Linked DNA regions of Homo sapiens: region 2 is linked to region 1. The links come from fine-mapping of genetic effects on gene expression. A gene starts in region 1. The other region holds a variant in brackets. All regions are shown on one strand. Distances are between the middles of the regions.

Evidence for each region. PIP is the estimated chance that this variant, and not a neighbour inherited with it, causes the effect.
Region 2: its variant is the best candidate, but not a certain one, in a credible set for the expression of CEP126 in whole blood (TOPMed, PIP 0.69).

The regions. Positions count from the first base shown.
Region 1 is chr11:101,913,366-101,916,290 of GRCh38, reverse strand. CEP126 (centrosomal protein 126) reads right to left here and starts at 1,281. Exons shown (of 11, transcript NM_020802.4): 1 at 879-1,281. The coding sequence starts at 1,006. ANGPTL5 (angiopoietin like 5) reads left to right here. Exons shown (of 9, transcript NM_178127.5): 1 at 1-272. RefSeq lists an enhancer at 1,263-1,362.
Region 2 is chr11:101,973,441-101,976,365 of GRCh38, reverse strand. The region is part of intron 6 of CEP126 (centrosomal protein 126); the gene reads right to left. Among named protein-coding and RNA genes, the nearest start is that of ANGPTL5, 58 kb to the right of the region's middle. The variant T/G (reference allele first, on the strand shown) is at 1,267.

The sequences.
Region 1 (2,925 bases):
AATTGTAACAGAGTACAAAGAACATCCTAGAAATTGGAGACAAAGGGGATAAGAAAACAGAGTTAACTTGGAAAGAGAAGACACTCATCTCTGACAAGACTGAAGATGATTACACAACACCATCATTGCCAACCAAGTCCTTTGGGAATACAAAGGTTAAATCCTAATCATCACAACAGTCTCTAAAGGAATAAACCTGATTTACAGATTTTGATAACAAAATACTTCTCCTCTTTCCATTTTCTACAATGCAACCAACAGCAACATCAAAGGTAGGCTTAACCAACTCTTCGAGAAAAGTCAGAGTTAATCCAGATTGTAAAGCGTCCAGGTCCCCTGTTTCTCATTTCCTCTTTTCTGTCGCTCTGACAACAGACTGGGCAGAGATGGAAAACAAAACAACTTACCAAACTGTGTAGCCTTTAGCAGCTCTGGTAAATGCATTTAGGGCTGTGTTAGGATAACTGTTAAAACGGACTCTTTAGGATAGCAAAACATTTTACTTATTTGTGTAATTTCTCTCTCCAAGTAGTACGATAAATCAGGAAGTAGTTAATATGTAAGTAAAGAACATAATGGCATAAAAATATCCCCACAGAATACACAGTTGATGTGTTTTAAAATTCACAAAAATTTTACAAAGTTGAAGAATGGGAGTAGGATAACAGGGTGATGGGGGGAAGCAGCCACAGAATTAGATAAAATGGTATAATTTCAGGTCTAAGGTGAGACACGACAGTTGCTAAAGGAAATATCTGCACTAAGATGACTTGCTAGTTTTGATCACCCTGCGTCAAAGGTAATGGGAATCTAATTGGAAAAAGATGGGCCCCGTTTTCAACATCGCTACCCTGGCAGCCACAGGCTGGGAAGGATACAGGTAAGAGCCAGGTCGGTGATGCCCGCCGCTCTCCCGAGGGCCGAGGGGGGCTCTGTCGAGGTTGTCCGATGATTCAGTGCCCAGTTCCCCGACCGCGCTCCGGGTTCCGGGCCTCCCCGCCAGCATCCTTCACTTCAGCGCCGCCTGTCTGCTCGCCCCCAGAACCTCCCTCATGGCAGCTCCGGCTTCCTCCTCCTCCTGCTCGGCCCCTCCCTACACTCCGTCTCTCAGGCCCCGCGTCACGGGCGCGGAAGGGTTGGCCTCGACAGCCCTAGCTCCCGCGCAGCGGCACTGGTGCCTGTAGCGGCGATGGCAGCTGAGGCAGCGGCGACCTCGCCGGGCAATAGCAGATGGGGCGGCAGCAACCCTGCAGCCGCCATCTTGACAACAACCGACGGCGCGTCCTTGACAACGGAAACCTGGGAGGAGCTACAGGTCGGGGCGGGACGATGTGCCCGAAGCAGCCAATCGCAGGCTCCGGCGGCCCCTCCAGCTTCGAGCGGCGGGTGGCAACCCAAGCATCCCTAGGGACCCGGGTTGTTGCGCGAGGGGTGAGCTGAGTGTTGTTTTAGAGCCTGATGCAGTTCTGCCTCCCTTTTTATGAGAGTGTTTTTGTGGCAGTACCGACAGTGACGAAAGACAGATGTAAAATCCTCAGATACAGGCAATTGCCACCGGGAGGAGTCTGCAGTGATTGTCTGGGGGACAATTTGGAGTTGAATTTGTTAAACTACTGAATCCTGTTGTGAGATTTTGAGTTGTGAGTCTTTCTGTGGCATCATCATCCCCAAACACCGTCTCTTTAAAATGTCTTTGTGAAGTGGAAATTTTCCTTCCCTGCATTCTCTCATCCACTCGGTAATGCTTCTGGCATTCCCTCTGCAGTCGTCTTCCTTGCCTTTGCCCTACTTAGAAGGTCTACATTTCAAAGCCTCCTAATGGTTCTCGCATTGCTGCCAGATTCTGGAAATGGACCATCACAGCAAAACTAGCAATCTCTTGGGAAGATATGCCAAAAGAGATCATCGCATTGAAATGGTTTTGGGAAGTATGGAAAATTAAATGGATTTTTGAGACACTAGTTTATTGGCTATGCAAGTGACAGTTTTGAAAAAGGCTGAATCTTATTGTTGGAGCCTAATGTAAATGCATATATAAATTCTGACTGTATTTCAGTCAGTGTTTTCTTGGAAAAATTCCCAGATTGGAAGCAGAAAGTACAGACCAAATAAAGATTATTCACCCACCATTCAAATGTCTCTGCCTTTGTGAATTAATTTGTTCATTTTAAGATTTCAAATAATAAACTTTTCCAGTTGAAACTGTTTAAAACAATCTTTGCAAACTTGGTTGCAATGACTCAAATTGGAATGTACACTGGCGACAGATTTTAAAGTGCCACAACAAATCCAGTTTCGATTTAAGACACAAAACACATGAACTCTCCTTCAGAAGCATACCAACAGGATAAAATATACAATTCTGACATGAAAAGCTAAATGTATACAACTGGACACTTGGCTATCTTGGCAAGTTTTTAATTGGCCTAGCCACAGGCAATGGCCTTGATTCTATTCCCACTGCTGTCATCACACGTTTGTCTCCCCATGGGTGATCTGAGTAAAGTAGGGCAGTGCAAAGTACAGATGAATATGAGAATATTAGAGTTGCTATTTGGAATATTTAGGCATGGTTAGCTTTCCAGAAGTCCAGCTTTTGCTATATTATTAGTTTGCGATCTCGTAAGTCCTAGGCATCTCACTGCTTTGTGGCTTGGTATATTAGCACTAAGAAGCATAATTTGGTTTCTCAATTGCCTATAAATCCTTTCTTACGTTAACTTAAAAAAACACGTAATTTATGAATCTAGAAAGGAGAGGAAAGGGTTACAGCCTGAAAGGAGGGCCATCCCACAAGCTGGGAGTGTGCCTCCAACTGAAGCCTAAAGAGGCAGGTACTTTGAAGGAGGGATGTTGAGGTAGGAGATTTATGCTGAAAAGTTGGCTAAACATACATAATTTATAGGATATAGGAGGAGCTATGAA
Region 2 (2,925 bases), 60 kb before region 1:
ATAAAGAAATTAAGATGAAAAAATACTCAACATCACTAATCATTAGACAAGTGCAAATCAAAACCACAATGAGATACCATTTCACACCAGCCCGAATGGCTATTACTAAAAAGCCAAAAATTAACATGCTGGTGAGGTTGTAAAGAAAAGGGAATACTTAAATGCTGCTGGTGGGAATCTAAATTAGTTCAGCCATTGTAGAAAGCAGTTTGGCGATTTCTCAAAGAACTTAAAACAGAAGTACCCATCAACCCAGAAATCCCATTATTGGGCATATACCTGAAGAAATGTAAATTGTTTTACCATAAAGACACGTGCATGTGTATGCTTATTGCAGTACTACTCACAACAGCAAAGACATGGAATCAACCTAAATGTCCATCAATGGTAGATTGGATAAAAATGTGGTACGTATACAACATGGAGTACTATGCAGCCATAAAAAAGATCATGTCCTTTGCAGCAACATGAATGGAGCTGGAGGCCATTATTCTAAGCAGACTAACACAAGAACATAAGGAAACCAAATACTGCATGTTCTCACTTATAAGTGGGAGCTAAACTTTGAGTACATATGGTCATAAAGAAGGGAACAACAGACACTGGGGCCTATTTCAGGGTGCAGGGTGGGAGGACAGTGAGGACTGGAAAACTACCTACCAGGTACTATGCTTACTTCCTGGGAGACAAAATAATCTGTACACCAAAACCTAGTGACATGCAATTTACCTATATAACAAACATGCACATATACTTCTGAACCGAAAATAAAAGTTAAGAAAAGAAACAACAACAAAAAAGAAATTAAGGCAGGAGGGAGGATAAGTAACTTGCCCAAGGTCACAGAGCCAGTAAGGGGCAAAGCTGGGATTCAGCTCCAATTAGTTGGGCTCTAAAATCTAAACTTCTAGCTCTTACACATATGCTAGTAATTTTCATTCTGATTGATTGTGTCTCACAGAAATAAATATATTTTGCATTGTGACCTTGGAGACATATGTAGTTTTATAAAATATATTTATCCTCACAACGTATGATACCGTCTGGTAGTTTCCATTCTAGAATATTCTAATTCTAAAATTAGACTTCATTTAAAAAATACTGGTTACCAGTCGTTGATTTCACAATTGACGAACGAGTCATGTCCCACAGTTTAAAAAGCACTGTATTATGCTTATTTCCACCTGTATCAATATGCTAAATGCTATATATGCAAAATGTTATAGTTTCCACCAAGATAATTTTGGCAGCAATACAGTTTCTATG[T/G]TGTTTTCTATTCTTGGAATTTTCTTCCTCTAAATCTTGAGAAGTCCTCATCTTTATCTAAAAAGCTTTAAACACCTTGCATAAAAATTTCCTTGTTCACTTAACTGCTGTGTCAGGGTTTTATCTCATCCCTCAGTTTGCTCATCAATTTTCTGAAGTCACTTTTGTACTTCTTGATTGCATTATTTATCTTTGTGCTTTATTGTTCTTTGTAGTTTTGTGGATTGTAGATTATTGATCGCAGTTAAAGACACAGTATATACTTAAAACTGTTTATGTATTTTTCTATTCACATACATGTGCTTAAATATTACCTAACAATTAATACAAAAGCTGAGAACCTTGCTATTTTTGCAAAAATAATGTAGCTTGCACTGGTATCTCTGGCCAAATTCCTAGTTTCATATGAAAATTCTAGATAGGATAGTTTCACTACCAAACTCAAAATAAAGCTACTAATCTTCAATAAAGCATTATATTTAAAAAAATCTGTAGTATTCTTAATCATAAACACATGAAAAAATACCGGAGACATTCTCAAAATTATAGTTTTGGAAAAAATCTTAGGAGCCACTACCTCATGGGGGCATCCTCTTCCTTTGCTGGATAGCTCAAATCCTTCCTTATGCTGAGCTGAAAACCTCTCTGCAATTTTTACCCTTTCATTTCAGTTCTGTTTACTCCTTCTTCTTTGTCATAAGCCTTCAAATATTTGTACATAGCTATCATATCTCTTAGGCTTGTGTTTCTTTAACTGACTTTTAGACTGAACCTCTCCTCTCATAGCCCCGGGGAATCCCAGTTTGTTTATAATTCCTTAAAATATATATTATAAAATGACACAGAGTATAGCAGTACTTCTAAAGATCTGCTTGTTACTGCCTAAAATTATTGTCCAAAATTATAGTGACCTTGTAACAGCTATGGTAAACCTTTTTTGCTTTGTGTGTGTGTGTGTGTTTAACAAAGAAGAGTTATCAAAACAGGTATCTGCCTTCTTAGAAGTGTAAAACTGATTTAAAAAAGACTAAATACATACCAGCAACCATAAAGGAACTGACCACATTGAGAAAAACTTTTAGTCATTAGAAAGAGTAAAAATACCAATCACAAATTGGCAGAAAATAATTATAACACATATAATCTATATTGGATCTGTATATACAATATGTAAAAAACTTCCATCAATAAGAAATTTAAAAAAATAGAAAAATAGGCAATGACAAGAGCAGACATTTCACAGGAGAATGCAAATGATGCATAAACATATAAAATGTTCAACTAATTAGTAATGAGGACAATATAAGTTATCATAATTAGAAACTTTTCAAGGAATACATTTGCATTTTTATTATATTCAGTTTCCAGACAAATAGGGCTAAAGTTTTTCTATGCCTTTTTATTAAAACCTAATTTATTGCTTTTTAAAAAAAATTTTAAGTTTTAGGATACATGTACAGGATGTGTAGGTTTGTTACACAGATAGATGTGTGCCATGGTGGTTTGCTGCACCTATCAACCCATCACCTAGGTATTAAGCCCCGGATGCATTAGCTATTTGTCCTGATGCTCTCCCCTCCCCACTCCAAGACTCTAGTGTGTGTTATTCCCCTCCCTGTGTCCACGTGTTCTCATTGTTCAGTTCCCATTTATAAGTGA